Regions from separate parts of the Homo sapiens genome. Here region 2 is linked to region 1. A link means that fine-mapping ties the variant in region 1 to the plasma level of a protein whose gene starts in the linked region. Region 1 holds a variant in brackets. A gene starts in the other region. All regions are shown on their reverse strands.

Region 1 (5,000 bases):
AGAGGGGAGGCTCATGGTTAGGGTCCTGAGATCCATGCATTTGGGAGGAGACCTGTGTCCTTTGCCCACCTCTGCTGTTCCACACAAACCTGGCTGAGCTGGTGCTGGGAGACCGGGGCCAGGGAGTGGGCCTGCCTGCTTTGGCTCTCTGGTCCACCTCCACCCTGAGCGAGGGGCAGAGGAGGCTGGATGGGCGGCCACCCGCTGCCAGGGTGGGGATGTTTGCCTCATCCCACCCACCCTGCCAAACCTGTCTCCCTGCCACCCCCATGAGCGTGTCCCTTCTGCGGCCACACGCACAGGGAGTGCACACTGGCGTGCCACCTGGCACTGAGTGTCGCTGAGTGGCAGGAGGCAGGAAGCAGAACTGGTTGGGCCCTGCTTGTGGTGCTCTCTGTCCCTAATTAGATGTTTCCGGCAAGGCGGTGGCGCTATGACTACTCATCACCCGCCCACAGCTGTGGAGTATGGCAAGGCCAAACTAGCTTGGCCCTCTTCCTACTGCCTGGGGGCTTATGGGTCCCCTCCTGCTGGCCCTACTTGCCTCTACCTGGACAATGTTGAGGGCCAGGCTCAGAGCAGAGGCACGGACACCGAGGGACTGTGTCCAGGGCAGCTGCCCATCGAGGCCTGTCTCCTGCCTTGGCCTCTGTAAGTCCTCCATCTCTTGGATGGAAAGCTGCTGGCCCAGATGTTGGGGAAAGTGCCGGGTCCCCCCATCCAAGGCCTCAGGACAGGGCTGGGCATGAGGCCTGTCCCTGGCTCTCTGGGGAGAGTAAGTGAAGCAGATGCAAGGATGACCCCCTCCTGGGCCCCACTGACCACATGGGTGCTGCCCCAGAACATGGGGGTCAGCCCAGTTCTGAAGGTGAGACGGGGGCCCAGCATGTCAGCACAGTGCAGCTGGTTCTCAGCAGCCTTGCACCCTTATCAGGAAGGGCTGGTGCCCCCCGTGCCCATCTCCTCTGGTCCCCATAGGTCAGCTAGCAATCATCCAAAAGGACCCAGCACCAGCCAGAGGCAGGCCGGCCCGGTAACGCATGGGCCAGTCTCTTGGCCTTCTGTTTCCACGCTGTGAACTGCCACAGGTCGCCTCAGACAGTGTATTTTCCCTCTTTCCCAACCGCTTTTCACTGGGTATCCACAAAGAAGTTAAAACTGTGCCTCGGCCCTCGCGCCAGGGTGCCCGCCCAGAACAGTGGGAGCAGTGCTTCCTGTTGCAGCCCCCACCCAGCCAGGCACAGGCCCAGTGCCTCTGTGGGACTCCATCCAGGACTTGTTGAAATGGCCGATGATACAAAGGAGCCCCGACTTCACCCATGGCCAGCTTCCCTCGCCATCCTCCCTGCAGCCAAAGGACTCGCCCTCACCTGTTCTTTCTGAGACAAATCATCTGCCAGGTTTCCGCCTCGGGACACCCAAGCTCAGCACAGACAGCCTAGCAGCCTGGGTGACAGGATCCCAGGGGACAGGTAGGAGTCTCATCTAGCTGGCTGCCCAGGCCCATGCTGCTCTTCTGTCTCTGTCCACTGTGTGGCTGTCCACTCTCCCAGCCCCGCTCCCTGGCAAGCACAGCAAACATCTCCTTCGCTGCCAAACACGGCCCAGGAATGACTACAGGGTAACCATCCCATCAGAGGCCGGAGCTCTCACTATCCTCACTCCCGACACATCCTTGGGCCCCAAAGCTCACTCTCAGCTTTCCTGACCAGCTGGAAAGAGATCTGCCCAAGTGCCCACACTACCTAGTGGTAGAGCCAGGCTGGACCACATTCCTTGAAGGAAGCTCCAGTGTCCCACCGCCCAGCCTGCTGGCCTCCCTGAGCTCGAGTGTCCACCAGGCGAGTGGCAGAGCAGACTGTGGCCAGCCCAGTGACAGAGGGGAGGCTGGGAAGCAGTGGTGGGAGGCCTGGGAGAGGCCCTGGGATGCTCCTTGACTCCAGCTTCCAGCCTCAGTCTGTCCTCAGGTCCTTTCCTGGCCTGGAGATTTCACTCAGCATGGGGTGGGGCTCGGGGGAACCAGCTTCAACCCTGTTCCTGGAGCCCTTCCCTGGTGGGTCCAGGAGGTAGAATTTACCCCCTGGGTACAGGTGCCTAGGTTTATCCTCAAGGAACCAGCATTACTCCCTGTCACTCCAAGTCAATATTGACATAACAAAGGAAGGCGAGGGGAGGGTGGTTGGGGGGGTGGGTGGGGGAGCGGTTCAAGGTGGCTTCCTAGCCAGTAATCCTTTCAAATCTCCAGGGTGCTTGCAACCATCTTCACCTCTTCCCAGGGGAAAGATTCTGCCCCGGGAGTAAGAAGCTCTAGAATTCTGCCTTGGGGAGAGAGGCTGATGGGATTGTCAAACTGGGGCCCTGGAATCAGTGCTGTCGGGCTGGGGACCAGTGTCTCTGGCCTGTAAAACCTTCTCCCAAAACCTTCTGGGAGGCTTTGAGGGTCTCAGAGGAACCTGGCAGGAAGGTCAGAACTCAAACACTCCCACATTCCTGGGCCCTCCACTGGAAATGGGGTCAACGCTTAGCTGGTCACAACTTACCAGGAATCTGTGAGGTGAACGGAAACGTGCCCAGCTGGCTCTGGGGTCATGGTTGGCTGGTGATGGAATGGCCCAGCCAGGGGACAGGCCAGCACAAAACGCACCCCCACTCTCCAGCCATCTGAGGCACCCGAGCGTGGACTGAGGACAGTCCCTTTCTCATTGCCAAAAACTGTGGGAAAACTCTCCAGTGGGCCACATGACTTTCAGAGGTAAAATTAAGTTCTCTATCTTCTACCCTTTACTTGACCCACAGGATTCTCTCCTTGCCATGGGGATGAGGACAAATTCTCCCTTCATCCTTGAGATTGGACTCCCGCCACACATCCTGGAGGAGCCTACAGAGAAGCCGGCAGGTCTCCCTCACCTGGATGGTGCCAGCGGGTGGCCTGGACCACCCAGAGGCCCTCTCCTGCACCTGACAGGAAGCCCCTGGGGCATACGTCTCCCCTGCCACTTCCACTGTGGCCACTGGAAGTGTGGCAGAGAAAATAGCTAGGACAAAAAGAAGTCAATGATTTCAACCAACGGAATTTCTTTGTCCTTTGTAAAAATCAACACATGATCTGTTACTGATTGGGATGTGAAATAAAACTAAAAATAACAGCACACTGAGCCTGGCTCAGGGCTCAGCTCACCTTTACCACGGTCCAAGTTCAGTTTATCAGATCCCAAGGAGCAGCTAAGCAGCAAGTCAAACACAGGTGAGGGTGGAGGGCGGAGGGCGGAGCGGGGAGGGGGCTCTGGCCCTCTGCGTGCCCCCACCAACCCCCAGGTAGAGAACCAGCCAGCTCACCAGGGAGTGTGGCCAAGCAAGAAGCTATACACAGAATTCTGAGCCCACACCCTAATCTGCCTCAGGTGGGGAGGCCACTCACTTCCCTTTTTGCCTCAGTTTCCCCACTGGGGTTACCAGGGTCTTCTGGCACATTCCCTTGTTTTAAGGAACGGTGGAAGAGGGGTCCCCTTGAGATCAGGTTAAGCTGTGAAACATCCTGCCAGCGCCACAGGCCACTGGGTCCTGGAAGGTCAGGCCACAAAGACCTCACCAGGACACTGTCTCCAACAGCTTATTCAGGAGGGAAACTGAGCAAGAGCCCTCACGGGGCCCCTCACTGCTGCCCTCATTTCCCCACTTTCCTACAAGGCCTGGGGCGGTGCCAGGGAGTCTGCAGATCAAGGGTCAAAGTCAGTTGGTTAATTACTCCTCCCCTCCCCCCTCGGAGGGGCTGGGCTGGGCGTTCAGAGCGTCCACGCCCCGCCCCCAAGGCCTGGGGAGGGGGCGTTCGGAAGGAAGCAGGCTTTCTCCAGACCAAAGACTTTGTTGGGGGTGGGGGAGGACAGAAGGGGTAGGAGTGTTCTTGGGGCGTTCAGGGGAAGATGCCGCTGGAGGAAGAAGCAACTCTCACAGTCGACGCTGTCTAGGCGTCTGCCAAAAATAACTGGGTACACCAGCTTCCCCGGGCCTGGCCCTCCGCTGTGGGGTGGGCTCCCTGCAGCTGCTTTCCATGCAATTGTGCCCTCCGCAAGGTGAAGGAAGTGCGTTTCTAGCAGAGGTGAGACCCGATCCCACCTCTGCTTTAAGGGCAAGCGGGGCGCAGCGGGCGCCTGTCCCACCGTCTCGGCTCACTGCGCGGGAC[T/C]AGCAGCCGGAGCCCAACGAAAATTTGGGGGCCCACGCCCCCCACCGGCCCGACCCTCACTCCGACCCGGCCACCAGTGTTGTGGGGGAGGAGGAAGGACCTGTGCGAGCGGCTGAAGCTCTGAGCTTTTAACACAAATCTCGGCCGAAACTCCAGCCCGCTCCCCGCCCCCCAAAGTGGCATCGCTCCAGTGCCTTCTCCCGCCTCATGCGAGTCCCGGTTTTCTGGATTTACGACGTCGGAGCCGAGGGTCGCCTGAGCGGTGACACACCCCGCTGCCTCCTCTGTGCCGCGGTTCAGGGGGTGGGGGTAGGCGGTTCCGCGCCCCCTGGCCCTGGGAGCGGCTCCCCTTCCACCATGCAGCCCCCGCCCCGACCAGCGCTCTTCCGCCGGCCCCGCCCCCGCCCCCCGAGTCCCGGGTCGAGAGCCGCGGGCCCACCCAGCCCAGGCCGCGGCCGCATTCAGCCCCGGCGCCCACACCGCGCCTGCCGCCTGGCTCCGCGGACCTGCGCCCGCCCGCCCGCCCGCAGCCTCGACGCCGCCGCGGGTGCCCCAGGCCGGAGGGCGGTTGGAGCCTCACCTGGCACGTAGATCTCGCCGCGCTCCTCGTCGGGGAGCTCGCTCCAGTTCCTCTTGCACGTGGAGACGCACGGCTTCTTCACCAGGAACGCGCGGGGCATTTTCGAACCCTCGTCGCTGGACACGGGCCGCTTCCGTAACTGAAGCCGGGAGCCGTCCCACCTTTGCGGGGCCGGGCTGAACGCCGGGAACGGGGGCACAACAGGGAAGGAGTCGCTAAGGCGCCCCCACGTTCCGGGGA
Region 2 (5,416 bases), not on the chromosome of region 1:
CCATTCTCCTGCCTCAGCCTCCCGAGTAGCTGGGATTACAGGTGCGTGCCACCACGCCCGGCTGATTTTTTGTATTTTTTAGTAGAGACAGGGTTTCACCATGTTAGCCCTGATGGTCTCGATCTCCTGACCTCGTGATCCACCCGCCTCGGCCTCCCAAAGTGCTGGGATTACAGGCGTGAGCCACCCCGCCCGGCCGAACCCATACACTTCTTACAGAGGGAACTTGCAAATCACTTTTATCCTAAGTTCCTTATATGCGATTTCTACCTACAACTAGATCCATTTTCTCTGAAAATAGCAGGTACCCTCTTTTAAGTGGAGGAAAAAGGCTTTTGAAGTAAGCAGGTCTCCAGTAAAGGTCCTTCCTGCCGAGTTGCTCCTTTTAAAAATCTAAAACAAACAACACACATCCGTCCTGAGACTGTAGGGACACTTCAGCGCCCCAGCAGCATCCTTGGATGAAGCAGCGGGGGGGCTGTGGGCACACCCCCAGGCGCACCCCGCACCCTAGCGGCCCCGGAGCGCCGGCCCCGTTGCCCTCCAGGGTCCCGAGTGGGGGGTGGCGCCGCGATGCGCCCTCGCCTCCCGGCTCAGCAGCCGCCGGCGAGACACATTTCCTGTGCCTATCAGCACCCCCATCAGACCGCAGCCCAGGAGAGGCCAGTGACATCACCCAGCCCCCCTGGCGTCTCCAGAACAGCCCCGGACTGGCCGAGGCACCCCGGCGAGTATGCAGAGCCCCGACTCCTCCGGGCGCCGGGTGGGGCGCCGGTGCCTGGGCTGGGGACCGTGGCCCTGCCCCGCCTCCCGCTCTGCCTAGGTAGGGCTGACCCGGCCAGGGGTCCTCGCATCGGACCAGAGCCGCTCAAGTACAACTACGCAGAAACAGCCCCTCACCTTCTCCTCTGGCCAGGCTGAGGCACTCGGACTGACCCCCCTGGATGCCCAGGGCAGGGCGGCCACCAGCAGCAGCAGGTGGAGGGTGCCCACGACGCGCCGGTGTCTTCCGCCTGCCATCTCTCCGAGTCTGTCTGGGAGCGGGTTCCCCGGGCCGCTGGCGGTCACGAGCCCGGGAACGCGCGTCCTTCGCCTTCCCTCTTCTCCACCCTTGGGTCGACTGCGCCCGCCTTCCCATCGCCCCCGGGTAGCCTCCCGCCGCGTCGCGCAGGCTGCAGCCCTCCTACCCCGGACCTTCGCAAACCCCGGGGCTGGGCGGCCCTGGGTGACAGACACAAGCTTCTGAACCCAAGCTAACAAAGGCGGCCACTTCCTTCTCTTGGAGAAGATGAAAGGAAGGAAGCAAGAGACATGGAAGAGCCTTTTTATGATCTCCAATGCCAAAACAGGGAACAGAAAAGGGAGGAAGGGTTCACCAGACCCTGGGGAGTTATGAAGTGTTTCCCACAGCTCCTAAAGAAGGGGTGGACAGGGAATCGACGTCTGCTGAACACGGCACCAGGCACCGTCCTAGGTGCTTGTCCAACCTTCCCGGATTTAATCCACTAATCCCATTTTACAGACGGGGAGACTGAGACACCCCCCCACCCCCCATAGAAAGCCTGGACTGGAACCCACAAGCAAAAGTATGACAGTGGATCTTTGCCTTTTCTCTTTTTTCTCACAAATAGTTGCCTTGCCTCACATCATACTCTCAAATTGAAAAGGATGGTCAAAGTAATTATCTGAAATAATGAGATCTACAATATTCACAGCGGCTCTGAAGGAGTCATCTTCTCCAAGGCATGGCCCCAAAAGGAAAAGCCAAACACAATTCTATTTACTTTGTAACATCAAAGGTCATTGTTATCCAGATAATCCTAGGGCAGGAAAACATTTCAGTTTTGTCTGTAGGTTTCTGGTCCAAGTTGTCAGGACAGTGACTTTCACCAGCCTCTTTTGCTTCCACAGTGAGGATCAGGGCTTGGCCTGCTCTGAGTCATCTCCCAGTAACATCTAGTTCCCAGAAAAATCAGAACAAGGATACTGAAGCAGAACCATTTCACAGAGAGCAAAGATTTGAAGGTAAGGAAGCTGCCAGAAGGCCCACCCACTCACTCTGTCTTCCCAGCCTTGGCTATGAGTTTTTAAAGAGAGGGCTTGCCTGGAAATACACTGTTCTGCCCTCCTCTGGAGCTGTAGGAGAAGACAGGATGTAAATAACTCCTTTCCTGGTGTACAGATTTGCTAACCCTATTCATGTCTGAGAGTTTTGAGTGACAATTTAAATCTCCAGGCTTAAATAAAATTAAATACACCTTTATTAAACCCACAGACAGTTCTGATCATCGGACCCCCTTCAGAACTTTCTACTGGCTCCAGTTTCAGAACTAAACCACTGTCACATTCCCCAATACAGCTCCTCTCTTGCTGCCTGGGTCAACCTTGAAATAGTGCATTTCCTGAGTGGCTGGGTAATAAAGAGCCTATTTGCTTTTTTTTACCCTATTACCTTTATGTCTTTTCACAATATGGTTCCTATAAGAAAGAGAACGTGGAAATAGCAAACCTAAATGAAACAAAATGTGAGAGGTACTATCATGCTAAGTATGAGCAATTCAAAACAAGAAATATAGAAATAAGCTAAAATGTCAGCACATAACGTAATGATGATTTTGTTTCCTAAGTTTCTCCAATTTTGGTTATATTTAAGTCAATAAGATGTTCTTACAGTTTGGTATCTACAGGAAGCAGACTCTGAGACAAGAGTTTAACATGCAGGATGTGTATTAGGGAGTGCCCTTGGGACAAACCCCTGTGGGAGGAAGAAGGGGAACAGGAGAGAACAGAGGGAGAAGTTAGCAGCAAAGCGGGCCCAACAACCTCACCCAACTCCATGGGAGTCCTGAAGCTGAAAAAGACGGTCAAAGTTGTCCCATACTGGGCCAAAATGTCTGGGGCCTTATCTCTGCACCTCCATGGAGTGATTTCCTGCAAGCGGCTTTCCAGCCAAAAGAGCTTGACTGCTAGAGGCTGTGGGCCAGCCGGCCTCCAACAGCTGGAGCAGGGTCCTTCCCTGGGGGCAGATCTGGGCAGCGCATCTCCTGTATCCACCACAAACGTATTGTATCTGGTACAAATCTAAAACATTCCACATAGCTAGTGAGACTGATTTCAATACATTGGTTTTTTTTTTACATGTAAGCTTTTCTGCCAACTTTCCAAGAATCTACAAATCCAACACCACTATGTATGTATCACTTCATTCCTTATGCATATCTTTTCTAGTGTCTTACACACTAAATACCCTTTTCCTTTCCTTCGCTCATTCTTTTCTCTCTTCCTTCATTTGGGAAACGTTTAGAAATACCTTATATCTGCTATTTTTGCCCTACTTCAACTTTTCCTTTCTTCAAACTCTTCCCATGGAAGATAACTAATGACTTTTCCATTTTAATTAAAGTTTCAGACCCTGTTTTTCATCATGGAAAAAATGTGTTGTATATACAGTGATAACACTGTTCTCAAGTGGAGAAATTTTTACCTCCATTATAGTATAGATTCCATACTGTGATGTGAAGGAAATGAAGGACCCAATTGCCAAAACAGATCTTCTCCATGAAGCTGCCATGGCAGGATGTTCCTACACCCAGTCCCACCTTTAAAGTGGCGCCATTAGATCAAAGTAGTAATGACCAGAAGGTTCTATTAAAACAATAGTTTTCAAAAGTGTGGTCCATGGATACTGGGGATTCCCCAAGACCCTCTTGGCTGTCTCCAAAGTCAAATCAACTTTTATAATAATACCAAAACAAGATTCATTTTTTCTACTGTATAGACTTTGCACTGATGTTGCAAAAGCAATGATGGGTAAAAATGCTGGCACCTTAGCAACTGTCAATACAGGACACAAAACTGTACTATTGAGGAGGAAAATCTATACTTGTAGTCATTGTGTTTTTCTTTCTTTCTTTCTTTTTGGAAGGAGTTTCACTCTTATTTCCCAGGCTAGAGTGCCATGGTGCCATCTCGGCTCACTACAACCTCTGCCTCCCAGGTTCAAGCGATTCTCCTATCTCAGCCTCCTGAGGAGATGGGATTACAGGCATGCACCACCATACCCTGCTAATTTTTGTATTTTTAGTAGAGACAGGGTTTCACCATGTTGGTCAGACTGGTCTCGAACTCCTGACCTCAGGTGATCTACCTGCCTCGGCCTCCCAAAGTGCTGGGATTGCAGACGTAAGCCACCATACCCAGCCATCTTAGTATTTTTCACTGCCACGCATAAAGAAAAAAAAAAAGAAGAGGACGATAAAAGAAAAGAAAAAGAGCCAGTTTCACTTAAGAATGTCATTGATGAAGTAATAAAATTGTTGTTTTACTGCCTTCTGAAGCTGTCTCTCCATGAAGCTAGATTTTAAATCTAGCAGGACAGAGTACAGGAGGAGAGAGAGCTCCTCACGTCTGCGTTTTCATCTCATGGAGACCACCAGCTCTGTGTGGACTCCTCCTACCTGCACTGCATCCTGGAAACTCTCAAAGCAGTAAGCTGGAGAAAACATCAGGCTCATCTCATTTCATTTTCCCTTTTCTCACCACTTTCCTGTGATACCTCTTTTCCAATATTTAAGCATCATTTTAAAAATTTTTATACACTTAGAGAGTACAGGAGCAGTTTTGGTACATGGATATACTGCATAGTGGACAAGTCTGGGCTTTTAGTGTAAGCATCACCTGAAAACATAGTATACATTTACCCATCAGGTAATTTCTCATCCCTCCTACCCTCCCACCCTTCCAAGTCTCCAATGTCTATTATTCAGCTCTTCATGTCATTGTGTACACATTATTTAGCTTCCACTTATAAGTGAGAACATGTGCTAGTTGAGCTGTTTCACTAAAGATAATGGCCTCCAGTTCCATCCATGTTGTTACAAAAGACAAAATTTTGTTATTTTTAATTGCTGGTAGTATTCCAGGGTGTGTGTGTGTGTGTGCGTGTGTGTGTGTGTGTGTGTGTGTGTGTGTGTGACGTTTTCTTTATCCAATCCATTGTGAATGTCATTTTTAATATATTTTAGGTGGGATGACAAATCCAGTTCCATCTTAACTGGAAGCACAAATTGAGAGTATGCAGCTCTTTATACTCACATGGGAAAATAAGACGTAGAAATCAAACACTTCTGCTGCACACCAAAGGGCAATTGTCTCAAAGAAAAGCATTTGTACCGTTGTTTCAGAAGTATAGTGGGCCGCAGTGGCTCACATCTGTAATCCCAACATTTTGGGAGGACAAAGCAGGTGGATCACTTGAGGTTAGGAGTTCAAGACCAGCCTGGCCAACAGGATAAAACCCCCATCTCTACTAAAAATACAAAAATTAGCTGGGAATGGTGGCAGGTGCCTGTAGTCACAGCTACTCCAGAGACTGAGGAAGGAGAATCACTTGAACCTGGGAAACAGAGTTTGCAGT

Which allele goes with the higher level. Alleles are on the strand shown, and positions count from the first base shown. The strength of an association depends on the size of the effect and on how common the allele is.
For the plasma level of the protein whose gene starts at base 1,122 in region 2, T is the high allele of the variant in region 1 and C is the other (moderate association).

Evidence for each region. PIP is the chance, under the fine-mapping model, that this variant and not a neighbour inherited with it causes the effect. Protein levels are from antibody-based Olink assays in UK Biobank. Linkage for the fine-mapping came from a reference panel and not from the study's own genotypes, which makes the PIPs less certain.
Region 2: it holds the start of QPCT, and the variant in region 1 is fine-mapped to the plasma level of the QPCT protein (UK Biobank, PIP above 0.99).

Annotation. Positions count from the first base shown.
Region 1 is chr11:65,787,234-65,792,233 of GRCh38, reverse strand. OVOL1 (ovo like transcriptional repressor 1) reads right to left here. Exons shown (of 4, transcript NM_004561.4): 1 at 4,761-5,000. The coding sequence starts at 4,860. It overlaps LOC124902693, which reads left to right. Exons shown (of 7, transcript XM_047427980.1): 6 at 1,150-1,472; 7 at 2,797-3,233. OVOL1-AS1 (OVOL1 antisense RNA 1) reads left to right here and starts at 1,366. Exons shown (of 2, transcript NR_108085.1): 1 at 1,366-1,472; 2 at 2,797-3,233. RefSeq lists enhancers at 217-376, 557-716. The variant T/C (reference allele first, on the strand shown) is at 4,181.
Region 2 is chr2:37,340,336-37,345,751 of GRCh38, reverse strand. It overlaps QPCT (glutaminyl-peptide cyclotransferase), which reads right to left and starts at 1,122. Exons shown (of 7, transcript NM_012413.4): 1 at 901-1,122. The coding sequence starts at 1,020. LOC124907754 (a long non-coding RNA gene) reads left to right here and starts at 697. Exons shown (of 2, transcript XR_007086284.1): 1 at 697-2,025; 2 at 5,025-5,416. RefSeq lists a silencer at 692-751.